Linked DNA regions of Homo sapiens. The protein of the gene in region 6 interacts with the protein of the main gene of each other region in a biochemical or structural test. Each region holds a gene or a part of one and is shown on either strand. Other genes may lie near its edges.

Evidence for each region.
Region 1: the proteins of GABARAPL1 (region 6) and TBC1D16 form a complex in vitro, tested with the Homo sapiens proteins (one study listed by BioGRID).
Region 2: the proteins of GABARAPL1 (region 6) and TBC1D17 form a complex in vitro, tested with the Homo sapiens proteins (one study listed by BioGRID).
Region 3: the proteins of GABARAPL1 (region 6) and CCT2 interact in a test that uses a peptide from one of them, tested with the Homo sapiens proteins (one study listed by BioGRID).
Region 4: the proteins of GABARAPL1 (region 6) and TRIM32 form a complex in vitro, tested with the Homo sapiens proteins (one study listed by BioGRID).
Region 5: of the proteins of GABARAPL1 (region 6) and SRPK2, one has a biochemical effect on the other in vitro, tested with the Homo sapiens proteins (one large-scale study listed by BioGRID and IntAct).
Region 7: of the proteins of GABARAPL1 (region 6) and SRPK1, one has a biochemical effect on the other in vitro, tested with the Homo sapiens proteins (one large-scale study listed by BioGRID and IntAct).

Annotation. Positions count from the first base shown.
Region 1 is NC_000017.11:79,952,373-79,955,872, forward strand, and holds part of TBC1D16 (TBC1 domain family member 16), read right to left. Parts: intron 447-3,500; coding exon 285-446; intron 1-284. UniProt on the Homo sapiens protein: May act as a GTPase-activating protein for Rab family protein(s).
Region 2 is NC_000019.10:49,880,702-49,884,201, reverse strand, and holds part of TBC1D17 (TBC1 domain family member 17), read right to left. Parts: intron 2,935-3,500; coding exon 2,727-2,934; intron 2,162-2,726; coding exon 2,050-2,161; exon of another isoform or gene 2,028-2,049; intron 1,961-2,027; coding exon 1,802-1,960; intron 1,439-1,801; coding exon 1,310-1,438; intron 1,230-1,309; coding exon 1,126-1,229; intron 941-1,125; exon of another isoform or gene 552-940; coding exon 457-551; exon of another isoform or gene 1-456. UniProt on the Homo sapiens protein: Probable RAB GTPase-activating protein that inhibits RAB8A/B function. Reduces Rab8 recruitment to tubules emanating from the endocytic recycling compartment (ERC) and inhibits Rab8-mediated endocytic trafficking, such as that of transferrin receptor (TfR).
Region 3 is NC_000012.12:69,595,459-69,598,764, reverse strand, and holds part of CCT2 (T-complex protein 1 subunit beta), read right to left. Parts: intron 1,610-3,306; coding exon 1,490-1,609; intron 1,128-1,489; coding exon 999-1,127; intron 798-998; coding exon 694-797; intron 444-693; coding exon 344-443; intron 1-343. UniProt on the Homo sapiens protein: Component of the chaperonin-containing T-complex (TRiC), a molecular chaperone complex that assists the folding of actin, tubulin and other proteins upon ATP hydrolysis.
Region 4 is NC_000009.12:116,690,305-116,693,804, reverse strand, and holds part of TRIM32 (E3 ubiquitin-protein ligase TRIM32), read right to left. Parts: intron 1-3,500. UniProt on the Homo sapiens protein: E3 ubiquitin ligase that plays a role in various biological processes including neural stem cell differentiation, innate immunity, inflammatory resonse and autophagy.
Region 5 is NC_000007.14:105,140,922-105,144,421, forward strand, and holds part of SRPK2 (SRSF protein kinase 2), read right to left. Parts: intron 2,410-3,500; coding exon 2,163-2,409; intron 1,570-2,162; coding exon 1,087-1,569; intron 1-1,086. UniProt on the Homo sapiens protein: Serine/arginine-rich protein-specific kinase which specifically phosphorylates its substrates at serine residues located in regions rich in arginine/serine dipeptides, known as RS domains and is involved in the phosphorylation of SR splicing factors and the regulation of splicing.
Region 6 is NC_000012.12:10,219,377-10,222,876, reverse strand, and holds part of GABARAPL1 (gamma-aminobutyric acid receptor-associated protein-like 1), read right to left. Parts: intron 2,438-3,500; coding exon 2,319-2,437; coding exon of another isoform or gene 2,166-2,318; exon of another isoform or gene 1,895-2,165; intron 1,091-1,894; coding exon 1,025-1,090; 3' UTR 1-1,024. UniProt on the Homo sapiens protein: Ubiquitin-like modifier that increases cell-surface expression of kappa-type opioid receptor through facilitating anterograde intracellular trafficking of the receptor. Involved in formation of autophagosomal vacuoles.
Region 7 is NC_000006.12:35,886,599-35,890,098, reverse strand, and holds part of SRPK1 (SRSF protein kinase 1), read left to right. Parts: intron 1-1,175; coding exon 1,176-1,284; intron 1,285-1,987; coding exon 1,988-2,075; intron 2,076-3,287; coding exon 3,288-3,375; intron 3,376-3,500. UniProt on the Homo sapiens protein: Serine/arginine-rich protein-specific kinase which specifically phosphorylates its substrates at serine residues located in regions rich in arginine/serine dipeptides, known as RS domains and is involved in the phosphorylation of SR splicing factors and the regulation of splicing.

The DNA.
Region 1 (3,500 bases), on a different chromosome or scaffold from region 6:
TTTGGTTTCTTCTCCCAAGCCAGAGTTGCAAGCAACCGCTGGCTACCATCACGCTGAAGGTAGGGGAGTGAGTTCGGTAGCTCACCCAGCCTGAGAACTGTCAGGGAGCTGCAGTGGGGAATCACTGCCCACAAGATCAGCGAGGGAGGAAAGCAGACGCTTGGGAAGACTCCATCCAGGGCCCTGTGTCCCCAAGCCGTGCACTGCACCGGCTGCAAAGCCCAGGCTGCCAGGGAAAACACACACAGGCCAACTCCCAGGAGGCGCCCAGAGATGCTTCCTACCTGAAGAAAAGGCGGAGGGAGCGCATGTGGCCCAGGTCCACGCGGAACACGCCGCAAATCTGCTCCAGGGCGCACACCCGCTGCGGCTCGTCCCAGCGTGGGGTCTGCAGGAGGCCGTTGCTGTCCGGGAACCGCAGGCCGGCGTCGGAGCTGGACGGGGGGCTGGTGGAACAGGTTATGTGATGATCGCCACACTTCTCCCTGCCCACACTACCCAGAGGGGGACGGGGGTCATGGGGGAGTCATTTAAACCTACGCACCAAGCTTAAACACACATACAGGCACGGCTGAATATGCCCTGTAAACACCTGTGAATAAATGAATGTATGAACCCCACTGCACAGTTCTACTTCCACTTGGATGGGAAAGCATTTTCATGATCAAATTCCATTCCACTTCAATAGAGGCAGTAAGTCATCATCGTCCTGACAGCCAAGGTCACACTGACTGGGGTTCCTCGCTGTGTGACCTTGGCCAAGCCACCAAGCCTCTCTCAGCCTTCGTTTTCCCATGGATAAAGAAGGCAGGAGAATAACAAGGCTGGGTTTCCCTACAGCGTGGGGCTGGGCTTTACTAAAACTGGTTGTTTTGGGATGATTTTAGATAGCATGGGGCTTCCGCGTGGTTTAAACCAGCTCACTGTATTCCTGAAAAGTACTGGTTCAGTTTATGCTTTTGGTTAGGAAACATTTGGGTTCTCAGTACTATTAATAACATCATCAGCATTTATTAAAACACTGACTATGGGCCTGGCCCTGAGCTAATGCTTCTCAGGTGCTTTTATTGCAATTAATCTTCACAAAAATCCTCTGAAATGAATAGTGGTATTACCCCATTGTAAAGAAGAGGCAACTGGGGCCCAGAGAGGTTAAGTAATTTGCCCAAGGTCACACAGCTGGCAAGTGGTAGAGCTGAGATTAGAACCCAAGCTTTGTGGCCCATGTTCTCACCAGCATACTGTGCAGCTGTCTGCAGTTCAGCAGTACAACCCCATTTATTCTGTTATTTTTTATGAGTTTGTTACATTCCAAATTGCAAAATATCTTATTATATGGATTCAGCCACCTCACAGGTTAAATCTTGTCTCTTGAGATTTTTTCTTTTTTTCTTTTTTCTTTTTTTTTTCTTTTTTTGAGACGGAGTCTCGCTCTGTCACCCAGGCTGGAGTGCAGTGTGCGATCTCGGCTCACTGCCACTTCTGCCTTCCGGGTTCAAGCGATTCTCCTGCCTCAGCCTCCTGAGTAGCTGAGATTACAGACGTCCACCACCATGACCAGCTAATTCTATATATTTAGTAGAGACGAGGTTTCACCATGTTGACCAGGCTAGTCTTGACCTCCTGACCTCAGGTGATCCACCCGCCTCAGCCTCCAAAAGTGTTGGGATTACAGGCGTGAGCCATCGCGCCTGACACTCTCTTGAGATTTAATGTCTAGCAAATGTCTGCTAAAATAAAACCGGAGTACAGGCAAGACTCAGCTCTGGACCCCAACTGCAGCACCCCACAGAGACTCAGCCGCATTCACCGCACCTGCCTTCCCGTTTGAGCTCAGAACATAAACTATTAGAGGCAATCAATCCAGAGGCACTTCCTCCTCCAAGAAGCACCAGGTCTAAGTAAATAAAGCTCCTTTGGAGGGTTCCAGCACAATCCCTCCCCACTGGGAACTTCACACAGAGAAACCTGACTGGCCTTTCTAGAGCCCTCTACTGCGTCAGGCATAGCCCTGGGCCTGGTGAGTGGCAGGTGGCCTTTCTTCCCCACCTGCCTAAGGAAGTCAGCCGAACAGGTCCTCCCACTGCTGGGGCCCCTGGGCTCTCAAGGAAACTGAGTCAGGTAAAACTAGATCAGAGATGGGCATGTGGGGCCATCACCTGAACTGCCGTGGCTGCGCCGCGGACGGGCCCAGAAGACCGAGGGCTCCTGACATCTTCCCAAGTGGACCCTGCGGGAGCTGCGCTTCAGAATCGTTGCTCACAACACAGGGCAGGTCTCGAGTCTGAGGCCCCACCGCACCCATGGGTGCCCCCTTCTGTCATCTGCTCATTGAACCGCGGGGCTGCTGTGACTGTGAGAGCTGCTGCCCCGTGTGCTGCCTGCTGGCCCGGCCCACCCAGTGGGGCCATCAGAGGGTGGTATCCTTTCCCGCCTCCTCCCCCAGCCTTCTTACCACACCCAACAGCAGAATCCCCCAAACCTGCTTGTTCCTCCCAGCACACTGTGGCCCACTCACCCTACAGGGCAGGCCAAGGTTTCCAGAAACCAGACAGAACACAGAGACTCGCTTTGGCAGTCACGGATGGAGGGCCCCCTCCCTGCTGCCGTGGCCACAGAAGACTGGTCCCCTGGAGGGCCGGAGCCGATTTCAAACCAGGCAAGAGTCCAGGACACAGGGGCCACCACACACCTCCCCCAGCAACGTGCCTCCAGGCAGGAGTTGGCTTAAACCCTCTCGCAACCCCTTAGGGGCAAATTATTTGCATTAATTAATGGATTGATTCATTAATTCAAGATACTGTGCTTGGGACCTACAGCTGGGGTTCCATAAGCTCAAACTAGAGCGAAGGTGATGGAGACCTCAGTTCGCTTTCATTGGGGTACGTCTGGCAGGTACCCCAGGCCCTGTGTGGTCATGGAGGACGAGGTCTGGTGCCCCTCGAGGCCGGCTGCTGTGGGGTGGGGGTTGCATCGTGTCTCTTCATCTTCAGCTCCCAGCCCTGGCTTGGCGCAGAACACACAGACATTTAATACTCATGCCTGAAGTGAAAATGTAAAGTGTCTGGGAATTTTGAAGTCACAGAAAAAAATGTTTAAAGAAAATAAACTACAGGGAAAACGAAATATGTACAGTGTTTTATTTTTGCTTATCTTTCTACACACGTAAAGCAATTTAGTTTTAAGAATATTCATATATGCTGCAAATAATTTAGCTTGTTCATAAAATTATGTGATGCATTGGAACTAAAAGGATGGGTTTTGCAGGCGATAACTCCCAAGATGCTATTACATTAGAAAGATCTCACACATAAAACTAGAAGACGCTAAACTTTAAGAAATGTAGCAGTTCTTCATTTCTATCATTTTCTGAAGATCACCCAAATGTAAAAGCAGTAATGAAAAAAAGTCAGCACTATCACTGGAAAACAAACACAAACACTGGGTTCTCCCTCCACCACAGTAAACTATGCCATGTCAGATACAGAGATAGAGATTTA
Region 2 (3,500 bases), on a different chromosome or scaffold from region 6:
CCCTGCTGGCCACCAGTGCCAGCCCCCACTGCTCCTCCTGCTGGCAGCCCCCAGCCTCGGGGTTTGCTCTGGGGGAGAAGCAGAGCTGGTTCTAGAAACTATCACTGATGCTCCTGCTGTGAGGCGCCAGGCCTCCCACTCACCAGCTGGCTATATCCTCCCACAGTAGGGGAAACTGAGGCCCAGGGAGGCAAAATCACTTGCCAAGATCACCAGGCATTGACAGAACTGAGACTGGGCCTGAAGGGAGCTGGGCTCCCCTTCTTTCCCATCCTGTCCCTGGCCTTGCTCCCCCAGGGCCATTCCCCAACAGCCCATGCAGCTTTCCCCCAAGATGCCCTCTCACTGGTCTTGGGGAGGCAGGGGGCTCCCTCTATCTCCCACTCGCACTTATGCCTGAGGCCCTCCTGTGGTTCCCTGCTCCCATCCACCCTAAGTGCCACCCCTGACACTGACCGATGAGGCTGCGGTATCCATGCAGAAGTGAGTTTCTCCGCTCCTGCTCAGGGCTCACAGATTTCCACTGCAGCTTCATGCGGAAATACTCATCCCTGAGTGACAGAGGGAAACAAGATGTGAGGCCGCCACTGTCTGCAACACCCAGAGACCTCCAAGCCTGGCGCCACCTCCCAGGTCAGCCCTGCAGAGCCCCTCCCTGACCACACAGACCCAAGCAGGTCACCTCGTCATTCTTGCCACTATCCCTTACACTTCACCTTCCTGGCATCTCTCACTACATAGCCTTGTGGCCTTTTGATGAAAATTTGTCACCCCCCACTGGACAGGGCACCAGGGACAGGGAATCGTCCAGCACTGCTGCATCCTCAGTGCCTGGCAGGTATATAACCTACACCAGGAATGAGGAGAGACGGGCCCTCCTAGGTTATAAAACATGCTGCAAAACTGTGATCATTAAAACAGTATGGCACAGGAATGAAAACTGCAATGGAGACAGACCATACAGGGGTGAGGATGGGTCTGGCTTGATCATTGCCGTATTCCACAGGCGCAGGATGGTGCCCAGATACAGCAGGTTCACAACCAGCGTCCACAGAACTTGCCCATTGGTGCCCTAGGAGGTACCAGGTGTCATGCCTGGCAGGGCAGGGCCTCCTGAGAACTCACGTTTTCTTGCGTATGTGGGCCTTGTGCTCCTCAGCTGTGCCTTCCCAGCTGAGGTACCCTAGGAGGAACTTCCAGGCCTCGCGCCGCAGGCTGGGGCTCAGACCCTGGGGGTGCAGGAGGGCAGGCAGCTCAGTGGGGCCTTGTTCTGGCCCTGCCCCATTCTTCCACCTGTCCTGGCACTCACCCCCGAGAAGATCCGGTTCTTCAGCTCAGGGACCTGCTGCAGGCGACCTTCAGGGCCCACGTGGCGTGCCCACTCCTCCTCTGTAACTGGAGGGCCCCGCTCCACGGTTGGCCGAGGCCCCAGCTCCACCTGCAGGCAAAGAGCAAATGAGCCTGGGGCTCGGCGGGGTGGTGGGGGGACCCAACCCAGCCTCAGTCCACAAGCTCAGAGAGCTTATTAGCTTGACGGATGACTAACATTCAGGGGCAGGCAGCAGCCTCTTCCGGGGCTCAGCAGCCAAGTCATCCCCCAGTTAGGAGGGGTCCCCCAATAAGGGTGAGCAGGTGCTCACAGTGTCTGGCAGAGCCATGAGCGCTTTCCTCATGCACCCCCTGAGGGTGTCCCATTACCATCCCCGTTTTACCAAAGAGGAAACTGAGGCCCAGGGAAATGAAATCATGCGCCCAGGGAGACACGGCCAGAAATAACAGGGAGGGTCCACTCACTACTCACACAGGAAATGACCTCGAATCCAGGCTCGGGCTCATCGTCGGGTGGCGGGGGAAGGTCGGAGGCGGCTCCCTCAGGCTGTGGCTGCAGGGCACCCCGGAAGAAGTTGGTCACTCGGGAGAAGCTGCTGAAGGTGGTGGAGTAGGGATCCTGGAGGAAGCGCTGGGGACGAGGCCAAAGGGAGGTCACGGCCCGCCCCTTCTCGTCCCTCCCTGCCCACACCCGCCAGGCCTCCTGCTGGGGACACTCACTGACACCACATTGGAGCTGTCCTGGTCAAAGAGCTGCAGGTGGTGGAAGGAGTTGGAGAGAGCAGAGGAGTCGTGGGGGAAGACAAGGTAGAGGCGGGAGTCCTGCGGGGAGCTGGGAGGCGGGAGGTGACGCACAGGTGATGCACAGGTAGGGGCCCAGTGTCCCAGGCTGTCTGTGCTCGGCCGACATCGGTTCCAGCTGCAGCGTCCCAACCACCCCTGGGCAACCCCTCATTTCAGGGAATGCTGTTAAAGGAGGCCCACAGCTGGATCCCAGGGGTGGGCACATGACTCGGGGCTGGCCAATGAGGGCCTTTCACCTTCCGGTCCAGTGTGACTGACTCAGGGACGAGCCAATGAGAAGCAGCTCTGGGATCTTGTTGGAACGTGGGGAAAGAGGTGCCTTCTATCCAGCCGGGTTGTTAAGCCACGGATACTGGGGCCCCAGAGAATAACGAACTCAGAGGGAAAAAGGATAACTGTTTCTAACATTTTGGGACCTGGGTCCTGCCTGAAATCAATACTCCTTTTTGACTTTTTAGTTATATGTGCTGGTCAACTCTTTGCCTGCCTTTAAATCAGTGTGAGTTGTGTTTCTTTCACAGCCCCGAGGGGTCACGCTGCAGCCATGGTGGGACTGGGCCCGGTTTAAGGCCCAGCACTGGGAGAGAGCTCACCTGGCCAACAGCAGGTAGCGGCTGAGGACGCGGAGCAGGGCGCGGGTGCCCCCGCGGTGGAAGTGCAGTGCGGGCAGGGAACCTCCAGCCTGGGTCACCAGAACCAGGTAGGCCCAGCTGAGGCCTGGCTTGGAGCGGCGGATGGACTTTAGCTCCCCCAGACTCACTGAGAAGGCCCAGGAGCCCTGGGGGCAGCTGGGCTCTGCACCTAGGGAGACGGCACTGTGTTGGGGGAAGCGCGTGGGAAGCCAGAGTCAGCCTTATCAACCACAACCCAGGATGTTCCTTCGGCACAGGCATCTCCTGAGGGCCCCGCCACAAGCCACCCCTCTGCCCCTGGCCTCACATTCCTTGGAAGCACAAATGAGTAAGATGGGAAGGGGGCCCAGTGGACATGTACCTTTCCAGAACCTTCCTAGGCACCCCTCGACCTGCAGGGTAAGGGCCCTATTCCTCAACCTGGCACTCGAGGCCCCTCGGGTCTGTCCTTCGCCCCTGCCTATCTTACCTCCAACCTTTCTTCACTCAAAATCCCACACTTGAGCTACAATGAAAGGCCAGCGGCTCCCTAAACACACGGGGGCCGCCTGCCTCTGGCTTGCACGGGCTGCTCTCTCTGCCAGAAGAGAAAACTCCCAAGAGTCCCTCAGTGCCAAGCTCCAGCATCACCTCTTCCTGGAAGGAATCTCCATTCCCCAGAGGGGTCACGTGCCTTCTCTGGATGTCCCCTGCACCCTGTGTGACCCCAGGATGGTGCAAATCACCCTAACTGGC
Region 3 (3,306 bases), about 59 Mb from region 6:
CTATGAAATTAGAAGTTAATACTGATTGTATAAACAACATAATAGTTTATGTTATTTTTCAGAATGTAAGTATTGTTTATATTTAAATCCTATAGTCGTTATATACCAAATAGTTACAAATCTTCTAACCAGTTTTACATGTCTTATGGAATAACAAAGTTTGGGAAATGCTGAGCATATAAAGTCACACACATTTTCCCAGCACATGTAATGATTATGAGGACAAAGTCCAAAAGAGTCTTTTATACGGTTATTGTAACTCTTTATGTTCCAAAAGAAAAAAAAAGCTTAGTGAAAAGAGTTACTTTTAACAACGGCCACAAAGTTCCCCTTGATTGCTTACCCAATCCAGCAGTGGTATTGCCTTCACTGTGAGCAGCCCTGAGCTGTGCCACCAGGTCTGCACTGTCATAGCCTGCATTGTCAGCTATGATGGTTGGCAACTATGAAAATGAAGAAAACAAGTAACTACTCACTCTACTGTAAGAACCACTGATTTACTCCTAACTAGGATAGCTTTTTAAAATTATACATTTAGGAACAATGTAAAATCTGCTTCAGTTACTGCTCACGAAGAGGAGAAACTCCAGAATCAAATTTAAAAGCAGTATTAACCAGTTCATTTTCTACTCATTTTAAAACTATCAATAACCACAAAACTTAAGTTCGGATCTCTCATTTTGATTAACTTACCATTCTCAGTGCTTTAGCATAAGACTCCATTGCAACAGCTTCTTTGCCTGGTGTTCTATTGGCAAGCTGTGTCACAGCATGAGCCATCAACATCTCAGAACAGCCTAAAGATTAAAATTCCAATAAAATATTGCAATGCTTAGTTGTCTCCAAGATACTGAATTACTGACTTTAAGATATGCCAAGCATTTTAAAATTTAGTGCAAAAGCAATATAAGATTTCTGTAAGAACCATTAAAACCACTTATGACTTATATTGTACTTTAAGAAATTAAAAATATATTCAACATTTTCTAAATGCTTACCTCCTCCATAAACTGTTCTAGAGTCCTTTACAGTTTGCGCAAGAACACAAAGAGCATCATGCAATGATCTTTCTGCTTCATCTAAAATTTGTTGAGTGGCACCACGCAAAACAATGGTACAAGCCTCACCTAAAATTAAAAGACACAGTGACCACTTAGGGATAAAAAGTTTGCCTTCTATTATTTATGCCGGTGTTGGTTATATTACTGGGTTCTGAAAGCTGACCTGTCTTCCTGTATTATACATTCTCCAACAATCAAGGCTCATAATGGTTCTAAGTTATCAAGGAAAAAAAACTGTTGAACATGCACTGTTCACAAAGACACGGTAAATATGAGGTTGACTCAAGAGACTGAAACAAAGTATGTATCATGCTTCTGAAGAGTTAAGACTTGTAAGATATGCTATTCTAGTAACTACAATAACCTTTACTTCAACAGAGCCTAGCAAGAATTTAGACACCCTAACCAGGATCTACATAATCACTCACCAAGGGCAACCCCAGAAAAGTGAATGAGTTTGTCTTCTCCAATCATGACTTCCTCGATAAGTTTGCAACTTCCAAGCTTCACCAGTTCTGGGTGATCAAAGGTAGAGGCAATTTCACCACCTATAAACATAAACATGTATTAGTTAAATGCACAGCAGGCTTAAAATTCCTGTTTTCTAATAAGCAGTAATGGATAGATAATGATAGGTAATGTGTTTCACATTTTAAAAATTGATTGCTGATTATATTCCTGGCACTCTTTTTAAATACTTCATATCGACTAATTATTTAATCTTTAAAATAATCCTCTTGGATAGGCTCCATTATTATCCCATTTTACACATGATAAAAATGAGGCCAAGAGGTTTACCTTCCTATCCAAAGACCTAACTAGGATGAATATAAAAAGCTGGGGTTCAAACTCAAGCAGTCTGGCTTCAGACCTATAAGCACACACTATACAATACTACCTTCCCAAGGTTAAACTGAGTCTTAAAGCAGTTACTTTTGAGTTTAAATTCAGATTCTCTTCTGAATCCAACCTATAAGACTAAGACCTCATGATACAATTCCCAGCACAAGACATGAAAATATTTGTCCTATAAGTCAACCACTATACACTTCATGAACTGCTTAATAAGCACCTGATATCTCTAATTATCACAAATGAAATGTCCTAAGGCCTAAAAAAACAAGAAATGCATACTAAGAATTTCCCAGACCAAATTTAATAAGAACAAATTAATTTAGTCCTTATGTCTCATTTCTATTCCTATTTTCCCTCCATCTTCCATGCTGTAAACTGAACAGGTCAGCCACTTCGTTCCCTATTTCCTAACTAAGCAAAAGTCAGGTTTCCATTTCAAAATCCTTTTCTCTAGCTGACTACTCCTTTCATAATGTGAATTGCATATATTATCAATCAACCCTTCTTTTCCTATGCCTTACTGATAAATCTGTCAATGCTCTATTATTTATTTTATAATAAATTCATAAAGACTCTGGTCTTTGAAACTACTAATTTATACTCATAATTTGTATAAAGTTCTTTTTACTTTTGGCTGGCAAAATTCTGAGACTGCTTTGTGTTCTAGATGTGAGACACAACAGATATTTGGGACGTCATATCCAAAAATAAGACTAACTTGGCTTATGAAACTTTTCACTTCATCCTTCTACATGAGACTTTTCTTTCTTTTTAAAGAGAGAGTGTCTTGCTACCTTGCCTAGACTGGAGCGCAATGACTATTCACCAGGCACCATCATAGCACAACCTCCTGGGCACAAGCAATCTTTCTGCCTCAGCCTCTTGAATAGATCAAACTGCTGGCACATGCCACCATGCCCAGTGCAAGACATTTATTTAATGACACTTGCAAGAACCAATGTCATCATACACCTTTGACAACCACTGAGCTTTTAAGGATGGGAGCCACCATGTGGTCACCTTCATAGACATACAGTTGGTGTACTTAATAAACATTCTTCTGGGTATAGAGCAATTTCATGTCAAGACCTTACGATATGTTTATCCCATCAATATATTATTACCATTTACTTCTTACATCTTTTTTTTTTTTTTTTTTTGAGACGGAGTCTCGCTCTGTCACCCAGGCTGGAGTGCAGTGGCGCCAATCTCAGCTCACTGCAACCTCCACCTCCCGGGTTCAAGTGATTCTCCTGCCTCAGCCTCCCGAGTAGCTGCGACTACAGGCACCCACCACCACGCCTGGCTAATTTTTTTATTTTTAGTAGAGACAGGGTTTCACCATATTGACCAGGCTGGTCTCAAACTCCAGACCTTGTGATCTGCCCAC
Region 4 (3,500 bases), on a different chromosome or scaffold from region 6:
AGACTACACAAATAAAAGGAATTGTCTTATCATTCCAAATCTTTAAGTAAGCTGCCCATTTTCTGCCAGCTATCAACTGTACAACCAATCAGAATGAGTATCCAACATGCTATGTATCATCTTGGCTCCCTTCATGATCCCTTGAATGTCTGTTTCCTGTTGTGCACTTTGTGCCATTAATTCTTGACCTCCCACCTCATCTAACATCAGCCTACCATCTTCCCACATCCCTTGACCTAATGATTAATACTGTACATCCCATACCATACTGTACTAGCACATCTCTTCAGCTCCCGATGAGAATCTGTCCCTTAAGCTGTGTCTACTCTGGCTGCCCTAAGACTCAGAAAAATTACATAATTATATTCCATATTAATCTCGCCTCTTCTAGCACCACTGGGTTTTCCCCATTCCATGAAATGAGTAACCAAGGTAGTAGAAAAAGCAAACAAAACAAAAGAATGAACCTTAAAGTTATATAGGACTGAGATCATATCTTAGCACTGTCACAAGTTGTGGGGAAGCAGGCAATTTATTTAACCTGTCTAAACCTGTTTTCTTAGTTTATAAAAAGAGTACTGTAATGACTATGGAAAATGCATATAAAGTACTTAGCCTGATACCCTTAGGTGTACAATAAAAGGATGCTAAATAAATAATAACCAGAAACAGCATTAACAATAACTAGTACTAGTATTAATAACGCATTCAGTTTACAAACTACATTTTGAAAGCATGAACAACCTTTCCTTTCATGGCATATAAAGGCATATAAAGATTAATAAAAGGGCTGGTCAGTTTTGAAGAGTTTTGATTGAGAATGCCAGACATACAGGCTAAAAACTGATGGGTAAATGAATTTACAACTTGTCTTGCCCAGAAAATGAGCTGCTGTAGCTCCTTCAAGCAGAGACTAAGTATGAAATGCTAGAATTCGTAGCAATCTCCTTACTTGAGACCAGGAAGTGGAGGTTGCAGTGAGCTGTGATGATGCTACTGTACTTCAGCCTGGGCAAAAGGGGAAGAAAAGGTAGTAATCTCAAGTTGTAAAATAGATGAGAAAACTAAGACCAGGAGAGGGAAATTAAGACCACAAATCACACAACAGAACTAGGACTAAAAGACACGAACTAGGAGTGGACAGTATTATATAGATTAAGGAAGCAGGCCTGAGGGATCAGGCTTTCCTGGATTTGAATTCAAGCTCTACTACTTATTGTGGAGACGTGAGCAAGTTATTAATACTTCTGTAGTTCTCAGTTTATCTATGGAAAGGGACTTTAAAATAGTATCTTCCTCACAAAGTTATTGCAAAGATTAAATGAGATTATGTGTGTAAAGCACTAAGTACAGTACCAAGCCAGGCATGCAATTAACTATACATAAATAATAGTTTTTATTATTATTAGCAGTAGCAGCAACTGCTGCTGCCACCACCCAACCTATTAGAAGAAATGAATAGGCACTTTTCAGCAGACTGTACCCAAGGCCCCAGATACATAAACCTAAATAATAAAAATTCTAAGCCCTCCTAGAAATTGTTTTACCTGATCCCAGAATCTAAAGATTAGAGATGATCTAAGGTTTCAAATCTTCACCTAATGCTTGAATTGCCACCATGGGGTGGTTCTCTAGATATCTCCATTTCCTTTACCTATATCAGCCTTTGGTGGCTTAGGCCATGAGCAAAACTGGAGAACTTTAAGCAATTAACAAAACAAATCTTTACTAAGCACCTACTATGTGTCTGGCCCTGTGAACGGTACTGGTGATACAATTTTGAGCAAAAACCAGACATAAACAGTGCTTTCCCCTAAAAACTAGACAACATGTAAAATATTGCATTTCCTTTCACAAGACATAAAGGTCCATCCTACTATTGACACGCTCCCCTGGTTTGACTGGGTTTTTTGCAAGGTTTATCTCATTTCCTTTTATGTCAGCTTTCTAAACTTTATTCCTCATGCATTCTAACAGAATGCTAATCAAGTGCAAAACTATCACTGTGCCACCAAAGGCCACTCGTTAGCAGGACTGACTTTAACGAATTCAGTGAGGTCATCACCTGACATCCACTCCTGTGTGTGGGAGAGGATTCTGATGAAGTTTAGATTACTCAGGGCATTTAAGGCACCTGCAGACAACTAAGATAAACTCAACAAGTAGGGGCTTATAGGGAAACACAGGCATGCTCCTGAAGTTGTACCAGTCTGGGGCAAACAAAACGATCCAGAAGGAAGTATGTTTGTAGAGAAAGAAAACTTTAGCTAAATTACTAAGTTAAACATAGCTAAACTATGTCAAGGGCAGGCTAAATGAATAATAGGGTTTCCTGGAAAACATGCTTGCCTGTTGTCTCTGTCTTCCTCTAAAACTGCAGGACCTAGAAAGACTCCCTTGCATCTTTCACAAACATTTGAGTAGTACCTACGCTGCCAGTATGACTCAAGGAATATAAGACAAAGGAAAAATCAATAGCCCCTTCTCAGGGACCTCCAACTAACCTCAACCCTCTCTCTCTTTCAATTCCTTTCTCTGCATATAACATCTGTTCATTTAATCATGAGATTATGATTAAAGGATCAAGGAGATCCTAGGAAATATACAAAATGGGATGAGAATTTTGGGGAGACTAGCAGAGACTACTTAGGGTTATCAAAATCTGGCAAAGAGCCTGAGCAACAGAGTGAAACACCATCTCTACAATAAATTTAAAAGATAATCAGGTGTGGTGGCATGCACTTGTGGTCCCAGCTACTTGGGAGGCTGAGATGGGAGGATCACTTGAGCCTAGGAGGTTGAGGCTGCAGTGAACTGTGATTGCACCACTGCACTCCAGCCTGGGTGACACAGCAAGACCCTGTATAAATAAATAAATATGACAAAGCAACACTTAGTTCTCTTCCAGCACTGCCTTCCTCTCATAATTGCTAACACTCTTAAAGCAACTACTATTTATTGTCAGGCATTTTTTTATATGTTCTCATAGTCTCATAATAACCATGTAAAGTAAGTGTGATTCCTCTTCAAAAATAAGGAAACCAATGCTCAGAGAAAGTAGCCTGTCCAAGGTCTCAAAACCAATAAGTAATAGAGCAAGGATTCAAATCCCAGTATCAACTCCCAGCCATAAAATTACTAACTTAAAGGATGTTTCATAGTTCCCTAGCTTTAGACAAAGTCTGGCTGAGAGGTTGGTAAGGGCACCTAGAAATGATTTTTAAATTTGATTGTTTTACCAGAAAGACAAGATGGAGGGAATGTCACAAAGGTTACACATCAGTGTGCATAGACAATGATCTACTTTAAGGGCCTTATAAACTTCTGGCTTCCAACTATTCTCCAGACATAAACATAGGGGCTCTGAAGGGTTGGAAAAGGCTTCTAATAAAACTACTATAATGTAACATAGGTGTAAGACAGAACTGGGTTTGTATCCCAACCTAGCTACTTGCTCTGTAGCCCTGGGTAAGTCATTTAACCTGTTATTTTTCTTATCT
Region 5 (3,500 bases), on a different chromosome or scaffold from region 6:
CTGCACTACAGCCTGGGTGACAGAGCAAGACTCAATCTCATAAAAAAAAAAAGAAACTTCAAGTAAGAGAAAAATTGAACTGCAACAGCAACAATAAGTCTGGATAAGGTACCTCTCACTACTGCCCTTTCCCAGAAATTAACCTACATTCTATGTAAGCACCTTCAAACACTCCCTGGAAAGGGGAACAGGAGCTGACCACGTCCAGCCAAGTAAAGAAAGCAAATCCTTAGGAGGATTCATCATAGCCAGTGCGTAACAAAGCCAGCTTACTCGGCGTGCAATTCCAGACTGCTGGAACCAAAGGGGCTGCAGAATGTCGGGCTGTTTGCAGGGCTGGCTCATCAATTTTACTCGCTGTGTGTTAAACAGTCTTGTCAGTAGAGGGAGCAGAGGGAGGTTTCAGAGCTTTTCCCCCATAAGCCAGTATGGAAACCAGCTGTGTTACCCAGTTTTCACTTACTAGAGTCACTTGGCATTCACTCCCAAAATAAGGCTTTGAATAAGTCAAGCCTTCTTAGGTAGACAAGAACACAAGAGCCAATCTATAATCTGTCATCACATTTAAATCCATGCCAATTCCTTGAAAATTACAATCCTGGGCCAGTTACCAATAGTAGGGTCCTATAATCAGGAACAACTATCAAAAGACAATATGACACTTCTTTCTCAATAGAGTCAAAGAGGAGGCATAATTTTCTTGAATAGAAACAAAACAAAACTAAACTAAACTAAATATAATGACATTAGATGGAAGAAGATACGAATTTTAAACTAAACTACACATTCTAGAAAGGTGTAAGTTGCTAAAACTGGAAGGTTTTTGCAAATGATGCTGCTGACTAAATATATTAAAAATGAAAACTGGTCAGAAATAAGATTTGGTATGCAGAGAGCAAGAAATAGCCTAATGGCATAGAAAATTTATTTAAATCACATTACTTCTTCAGGAGTATAAAAGTAATAAAACTGATCAGTACACACACACAGGGCTTGGCCACTTCCAGCCAATTCCTTCACAGCATTTGTTAAAGGCACGTCCCTGGAGTCAGCGATGGCAGACAGTTGATGGGAAGAAACACTTACCTTTTGGCAAATCCCCAGTACTGGAGGCTGAAACCGTTCTGCTTCTGTCATGGGATGGACTGCTCTCCTCTTGCTCAGTAAGTGGTGATCCCTCAGAAAGCACAGAGCCGCAGGCCACAGGTTCTAAGGATCCAGAGAACAACGAGGTGGAAAACTCTGGGAACTGTGACTCGGGAATTTTATGTCGTCCATTTGGCAATTCACCATTGAATTGTTCATAGGAGCTGCTATATGTGTAATCACTTTCTGCATTTGGCTCATCAAGATTATATTCCTCAGGATTTGGGCAGTCTTCTTCATCATCATCTTCATCGTCCAGTTGCTGCTCCAGTGAGAATGGGCCATTCTCAATATGGCCATTGGTTTTAGGTGATTCTATCCACGTAGGGTCTATGTTCGCAAGTTCCTGATCTACATCATCTTCATCTTTTTCAATGTTTTCTTTCTCAGCATCTTCTTTCTCTTCCTGGTCCTCAGCTTCACCTTAAGAATTTGATGGGTCAAGAATTAGAACTTGTTACTCTCCTTAATACAGCCTCATTAAGTACTTATCTCCATCAATAAAATACATTTTGAATATGCTTATGTACCACCTGGTAAACACCTCTTGGCTTTTGGGGTAAAACCTTCAGGTTTTCTAAATCTCATTTTTCATTCATTTAGTAATTGGCCTGCTCTTATAAGAAAAAGTTAGCTTTAAGGGAAAATAACTCTTTCTAAATAAAGTTGCACTTCCATTTCTACCCTCTATAATCTTCAGAAACAGACTTGTGGTGCATTACAGTTAGGTAAAAAGTTAATGACAAAATAAAGCACCATCATTAGCATGATAGAAACATGGAATTTCTCAATTATTTTACATTTTTAAAAACTATTTTGAAATGTTAACATATTTCTGGCATACAGTTCACAAATGAAGTACGAGGCTATTTCCCATATTTCCCAATAGGGAGTTGGAGAGAATCATCCTTGTCATCTGCAGCAGCAGCACAAATCAGCCCCCATGTTGACCTGGCAGAACCCTACTAATGGAGCTCTGAGAACCCCATGCAGCCCAGGTTCCAGGCCCCACTGACCATTGTCCTTTGCAGTCTCTGCCTCAGCCGCCTCCTCTAATCCTGTTGTTTTTAGTTTCACCTCTGGGCAGTATTCGCCATCCTGGTCATTGGAAGGTGCAGCTGAGGTGATGTTTTCTTCTATTATTTTCCTTTCAGCTTCTCGCTCCAATTCTTCTATCTCCTGCAGGCGCTTCTCCAATAACTCAGCCTGCCTCTTCTGTTTCTTTTTCAGTTTTTTCTTTTTGTTTTTAGATATTTTTCCTATCTATGTTAAGGAAAGACCACAGGTCAGTATTCTTCTTTTTAAAGCACCACGATAGTATAACGACTAGCAGCATGGCAAATAGCAATAAACTCTGCTTTCTCATGCCATATTCTATTAAAATCCCAAACCCAGACAGATCCACTTTGTGGTAAGGCTTACGATAAAATCAAAGGGAAAGCAGTGCTGACTGATATCACGTACTAGGTCTACTACCAGGTCCTGCCCTCAGAGGGATATAGCTTAAATCCAGTAAGTCTTCACCATTCAAACTCTAAGAGAACTGAAGTTCGAAATTCTCTTGGCCTTAAAGGAGAAGCTCCTCTTGCAAGTTTTATTTGCTGCTGTCTATATACAAAGTAACAACATCCCAGCTCCTCAATGCCAAAAATGAAACAGGTGCCCGAGCAGGTGTATGTCACTGTGTGTTTGGGTCTCACATATGAAGCTCTTAGCAGCCAAGACAACATGAACTGTAAGAGATAAGCCTATGCTGCAAAGGGAAAAAAGAAAAAGCTACAGCTTTTGTCTGCCTCCCGTCATGGTTACCTGACTTGCAAAGCACTGGCAATGACAGCCTCCAACCTTTCAATCAATCAGTAAATTCAAGCAGCTCAAGCCAGGGAAGAACTATGGGAAACAACTTGAGCTTCTCAGCAGGCCAGGAAGCTTAATTATTAAAGCTCCCTCTTGTTCCAGAACTTACATTCCAAATCAAGAGCTGTCTCAGTAAAAATAGTGTTTTGTTGTTGTTGTTGTTGTTTTCTTTGAGACAGAGTCTCTGTTGCCCAGGCTGGAGTGCAGTGGCGTGATCTCAGCTGACTGCAACCTCCACTTCTTGAGTTCAAGTGATTCTCATGCCTCAGCCTCCCATGTAGCTAGGACTACAGGTGCACACCATCACACCCGGCTAATTTTTTTTTTTTTTTTTGAGATGGAGTCTCACTCTGTCGCCCAGGCTGGAGTGCAGTGGCGTGATCTCAGCTCACTGCAACCGTTACCTCCTGGGCTCAAGTGATTCTACTGCCTTAGCCTCCTGAGTAGCCGGGATTACAGACGTCCACCAGCACACTCAGCTAGTTTTTGCATTTTTG
Region 6 (3,500 bases):
CTAACTAGCAGCTGCAGTGGATGATAACCAAGGAGGGAAGCAGCTGGCCATCATGTAGCATTCCTGTGCATGTGAGCCTGAAGGGACAGCAGCATGGGAGCAAGAATCCTGAATGAGAGTAGTATATAATTACCTTACTTCATACTTGCCCCCTCCCTACATAAGACACCTCTGTCCTGATACATGGAAAATACTAGAGGAGATGCTAAGAGTGGTTTTAGTCTACAATTGGAAATGCCTGAGACTTATTAAATTCCAAGGAAGGGGTGAGATAAGGGGCACCAAAGAGAAAGAGCAGGTTAGACAGGGATGCTCAACACTCTTGTCAATTCCAGTTTAATGCTATTTAATAACAAAACCATCTTCTTAATCACAACCACCTTCATGCCTAACCCCTATTTTCCAAAGGTAAGAGATCCCTGTCTAAATTTCTGGGTTGTTGTCTACTGCCACCCCTGGGGTGGTACTGTGATGTCTGAGTGAGATTGCAACCGGGATGGGAGAAAAGAAGTGTGAGACAGGGAAGATCAGGGGCCACAATGCATCAATTACAGTGGGTCTCTTTTGGTCCCCAGGTATGGTCCACTACCACAAGTCCCCTTTCCCTACCTGTCTTGTGCAAATGTCAAAAATAGAATCTCTGCCCAAAGAGAAGGGAGCACAGGGAGTTGCTGCTGGACTGCCATCATCTCTGGCCCCAACTTGTCCACCTCCTGACCCATCTATGAAACTGCACAACAATTAAACCCCAGGAATACTGTAAACTTACATCATCCCCATTCCTCTATCAAAGCCAATCCAACAGCTCTGTCCTGACATGCTTTCTCCCTGGGCCGAGGAAGCAGCAAAAAATATCAATTGAGCATGTGAAAATGTGATGACGGTGTGTGTGGTGTAATGTTTCTAGATGTCTTCACCTTCTGTCTCCTTGCGGTGGGAGCCACCCTCTTTCCCCATGTCGCGCACACACACCCCTCCCCTACCCCCAAGTCCAGGTGCTCCCATCTGCTGGGCTTCCAACCACTCATTTCCCATAGACACTCTCATCACTGTAGGCCACATACAGAAAATAGTCTTCCTCATGATTGTCCTAGGGGAAGAGATAAGACAACAGTTTAGAAAACATATTCATTCATTAGCTCTAAGATGCTGAGCCTCACACAACCTTGTAAAGCAGGTATGGAAGGTATCATTAGTCCCCATTTAAAAGAGGAGCAAAGGATAGGGAGAAGTGGTTGGAATTACACTTTGAGCTCTGAGTTCACAAACAAAAATCCTTCATTGAAAACATATTACACATAGGTATCAGGGATATGAAGATGACTAGGGCACAGTCCTCACTCTTAAAGAGCTCACTCCTAGCAAGGGGAACATAGATACCACAGATGGATATATAATGGGACATATACTAACAGGGAATATATGCTATGCAAAAAAAGATTCAGGATTATTAGAAGTTTACGTAATTCATTAACGGAGCACAATGAGAAGGAAGCATCTTATGCAAAATACTGCAAAAAACAATAGTTATAATCCCAGGTTATATTTTCAGTAATAATAAAGTCCTTCACTATAGTTTCCTCAGATTCTGACACTTCCAATTAAACCACATCACATAAAAATTATTCCTCCTGAGTTTATCTGTTAAGACATGAATCCATTTACAGACTTTGCCTTAATTTTATATTTCATTTTATCTGATTCATTGTGCCCAGATAATGTGGAATCTGTTTCACAGTTTTAGTTTTGTTCTAAGAAAAGTTTCCCCTTGTTTAGTATCAATGTGGTTGTCTTAAGCCAAAACTTCAGAGTTCATAGAAGAAGCTGACTGTGGGGAGAATCCTTCAGTTGGCAGAGGCTGGCCTCAGAGTTAGAAGGAGCTGGCTTTACTATTACGTGCTTTCTCAATCTGTTGCTAAATGGGAGTAAAATAATGAACTGGATTCTGAATGCATTACAAATTACATGCTACCAACCAGAATAGCAGGAACTGCGATGGGCTGACGCTTTGGAACTTTTGCTATCAGGAATCACTTCCTGCTGTTTCAATAAACAGTCCAGCATTAAAACACTATAGTCAGACAAGACTATAGTCAGACAAGATTTCAGAAGGATTAAATCTAGTAGAGTGGCTAATCCCTAAAAAACAAGAGGTATCTAATCTCTCAGAGCCTTACACTGCCATATGTAAGAGGATCCGGATAAATAACACCTTCTGCCCCACTTCTCAGATGTGTTATCAACGCATCTAGAACAAGGGCTAGAGGATGCCAGACTGCACTGGACGGCATCCAGTATTGTGCAACCAGAACCATTACCTCATACAGTTGGCCCATGGTAGCACTGGTGGGAGGGATGGTGTTGTTGACAAAGAAGAATAAGGCGTCCTCAGGTCTCAGGTGGATTCTCTTCCGGATTAAGAAGTAGAACTGGCCAACTGGATGATGGAAGAAGAAAAGGGCAGAAAAGAAAGTAAGAAAACAAGGAATTAGTAGAAGGGTAAGTCCTGGAAAAAAATTCAATTGCATTTTTTCACCTTAGAGTCAGTACCAGCTTTATATACCATCTGAGAAGAGCCAAATACCGGCCTGGAGCTTTCAAAATAAAAAGGGAAACTCGGAAGCCCACACAGTCCCTGACTTGCCATAGTGGAATTTATTCCTCCTTTCCCCTCTTATTCAATCTCAGACCTCATGTTAGCATATCCACTCAAAGCCTGAGGACTACGTTGAAGGAATACCATGTGCATCCAGACCAAAACATTCCCATCACTGTCTAAACCTGACTTGAAACTCTTTCCATCCCCAGACCCTCCCTAAGAAAAACTTAGCAATGGAAAGGGGTCCACTGGACTCTGGTCATCTTAGCACAGTCAGTCACCTCAGTGTTGGGGCATTAAACAAGGTTCAATGCTTTGCCTTTACTTGAGAATACTGAAAATTTTCTAGATGGCTGATATTCAAACCTATTAACTCTGGAGCAAATCAACAAAATCTTTCCAGTGTGTCCTGGATGCAGTGTGTATTCCATTAAGGATCACGATGAAGACTGAATATATGTATTTTTTTTTTTTCCGAGACAGAGTTCTACTCTGTCACCCAGGCTGAAAGCGCAATGGCGAAATCTCGGCTCACTGCAATCTCCACCTCCCCAGGTTCAAGCAATTCTCCTGCCTCAGCCTCCCGAGTAGCTGGGATTACAGGCACGCGCCACCATGCCCAGCTAACTTTTGTATTTTTAGTAGAGACGGGGTTTCACCACGTTGGCCAGGCTGGTCTCAAACTCCTGACCTTGTGATCCACCCGCCTCAGCCTCCCAAAGTGCTGGGATTACAGGCATGAGCCACCACACCCAACAATGAATATATGTCTTATAATCTCAAACAAAATCTACAAAACTTAGTTTAAAAAAATGTAGCTTAAGAAGATGTATTTAATCAGGAAACTCTAAAATATAATCCTCTCAAGAAGCCAGACTGGTTTTCTTTTTGGAACAAATTG
Region 7 (3,500 bases), on a different chromosome or scaffold from region 6:
CTCGCTCTGTCGCCCAGGCTGGAGTGCAGTTGGCGCGATCTCGGCTCACTGCAAGCTCTGCCTCCCGGGTTCATGCCATTCTCCTGCCTCAGCCTCCCGAGTAGCTGGGACTACAGGCGCCCGCCACCATACCCGGCTAATTTTTTGTATTTTTTTTTTTTTTTAGTAGACACAGGGTTTCACCGTGTTAGCCAGGATGGTCTCGATCTCCTGACCTTGTGATCCGTCTGCCTCAGCCTCCCAAAGTGCTGGGATTACAGGGGTGAGCCACCGCGCCTTGCCGTTTTTTGTTTTTTGTTTGTTTGTTTGTTTTTTGAGACAGAGTCTGGCTCTGTCATCCAGGCTGGAGTGCAGTGGCACAATCTCAGCTCACTGCAACCTCCACCTCCTGGGTTCAAGCGATTCTCCTGCCTCAGCCTCCCGAGTAGCTGGGACTACAGGCATGCACCATGACACTGGCCAATTTTTGTATTTTTAGTAGAGACTGGGTTTTACCATGTTGGCCAGTCTGGTTCTCAAACTCCTGACCTCAGGTGATCCACCCACCTCGGCCTCCCAAAGTGCTGGGATTACACGCGTGAGCCACCATGCCCAGCCTTAATTTTTGTATTTTTAATAGAGACAGGTTTCACTATGTTGGCCAGGCTGGTCTCGAACTCCTGACCTCAAATGATCCGCCCTCCTTGGCCTCCCAAAGTGCTGGGATTACAGGCATGAGCCACCGTGCCTGGGCTGTTTTGTTTTGTTTTTATTTAGAGAAAATCCCGTTTGCTTACTTGCTTTTTTTTTTTTGCTAAATAAACAGAATTATTCTGTCTCCTAAAAAACACCTGAGACTGTAATTGTAAATAGATATATATGTTTAGATAAACCTATTGAATTATTGAGAGACAAGAATATCATGATATACAACCTTTTTATTGTTTTTGGATGAGACTGTTGTAGGCTCAATCTAAATCATTAATCTTACTCACTTTTTTTAATAACATGAATTCAGTAATACTATGTGGCTGATTTGACTATTAAGATTTTCTTCTGTTGAATTGATTGTATAAAAGAAACTTTTTATTGATAAAAGGTATATAGATGTTGAAAAATGTGATGTTAAAAATGCCTTTTCTTACCATTGTTTCTCATCCTGGTTTTTCTGATTGTATTTCCCCTGTTTCTTCCAGGAGGTTATCATCTTGTGAAAATTGGAGATCTATTCAATGGGAGATACCATGTGATCCGAAAGTTAGGCTGGGGACACTTTTCAACAGTATGGTTATCATGGGATATTCAGTAAGTTTTAGTGGTTCTGTAAAAGAATTAGTTAGATGATGTCTAAATGTGTTTGTCTGAGTTTCCACTGCTGATCCAGGCTTCAATCTATCTCTAGCCTGATTCATTTATCAGAATTTTGTTGTTGGCAATAGTCTCTGTATTCTTGGAGAAACCACTTTTCTTTCGTGAAGAATCAGTATTATATATCTCCCTTTCTACTATAGAGACAGGAGTGATTAAATTAATGCTGGTAAAGCTTTTGTCGTTTGATTTTTTTGTGATTTTTATCATTTTCTTTTCACCGAAGTATTTCTTCTGGCTGCCTATGGGAAAATATTACAGCTTTTAACCTTTTAGTTTTTGCCTATATACAGATATATACACAGAACACTTGGAATTTGGTAATATCTTTCCCCTTATTTATCCTCATTTTGCAGTTTTGCTTGTAACTCAGGGAGATATTCAAAAGAAGGATTTTAACTCAGAGAAAATGTTCAACAACTGAGATTATCTGAGAACAGATTTTTTATTCTTCCTATAAATGAAATCTGGCCAGTTAGTGTCATTAACAAGTATAAATGTTCCCATAGAAGTAGCTTGTTTGGGCTACAGGGAAACGTGAAATCAATATTTGTCCTTTTTAACCATCTTATAGCTAAATCTTAGCTTCCTAAAGTAAGGGTAGGCTATGTAGTCTTAATTGCCTGTGTTTGTTTCTTAGGGGGAAGAAATTTGTGGCAATGAAAGTAGTTAAAAGTGCTGAACATTACACTGAAACAGCACTAGATGAAATCCGGTTGCTGAAGTCAGTGAGTATTAGATTATATGTATGAATGTGAAGAATTATAAATAAATCAAGTTTCATTGAATAAAAACACACCAAGTGGAGGCTCTTTAGCATGGATAATTTTCTCTATAAAGTTCTAGTAACCTTAAAGAGGTAAAGGAAGACAACAATATTTACACATACCATGCATGTAGTAGGGAACTGGTGGCAAATGCTATGATGAGAATTCTTCTTACACGCATGAACCAAAAAAAAACCTTTCAAATGAATAAAAATATTCACTGAGCATGTTTTACAGGCCAGGTAGCTACTGTCATAATGTTTTTTTTTCCTACTATGGTTAAAAGGAAAGTTGTGTAAATAAATGTATAGCATCTTTTTTGTTGTTTTTCAAATATGTTATAGAATACATAATATAAAAATACTGTATTTACTGATTCCATTTATACCTGGAAACTGAGATAAATTCTATCAAAAATGTATTTTTAGTTCTGTTTTAAATTAGGAATATGCCAGTGTGGTAGAAGGAACTTAAATTCAGAATTAGAAAACCTGGGTTTAGGTCGCCTTTACCCCGGTATGTCCTCCATGTTACCATTTTTTTCTTTCTGAGTCTCAGATTTTTTATTCATAAAGTGAGAATGTTGCACCAGGAGATTTCTATGGCAGTAGTTTTCTTTTTTATTTTCAACTCCTGGCCTCAAGTGATCTGCCTTAGCCTCCAGAGTAGCTGGGGTTACAGGCACAAGCCACTGCATCTGGCTTAAGACAGTACTTTTCAGAATGTCCGTTTGTGACAAGATAAGGAGCCTTGTACCTACCCAAAAGTAAATCAACATACTGTTTTCTTCATTGAGAAAGTTTTTCCATGAAAAAAAAAATGTCCGCTGAAAAAAACAGTGTGGTTAGTGCTGTAGTTGATTTGCATCCTGCAAAATCTTCTTAGTTCCTCATAGCCTGGTAATCATCAGTTAATTTGGAGGCCACACTTTGATTGATATCAGGGAGCAAAATAGTTTAATTAGAAAAATAGTTCCTGTTGGTTGTATTTCCTCTTATGAATTGACTATTTAAGATTTTTCTCCATTAAAGCTATTGAAATTTTAGTATATTTTAAAAATAGATTTATGTGAGCTCTTTCTTGTAGTTAATTTGCTGTAAGTATTCTTCCCCTACCATCTGGTTTATTTCCATGCTTTACCTTGTGCTAAACACTGTCTCTTCCCCACTACAGGTTCGCAATTCAGACCCTAATGATCCAAATAGAGAAATGGTTGTTCAACTACTAGATGACTTTAAAATATCAGGAGTTAATGGAACACGTATCCTTTTAAAAACCTATTTGAGAATAAATCATCCCAATCCCAAAGAAAGGAACTAGATTTGTTGTGTAGATGGCCTTGGTGTCTTTTCTAAGGCAAACTATAATAAAATTACCTCTTTTATT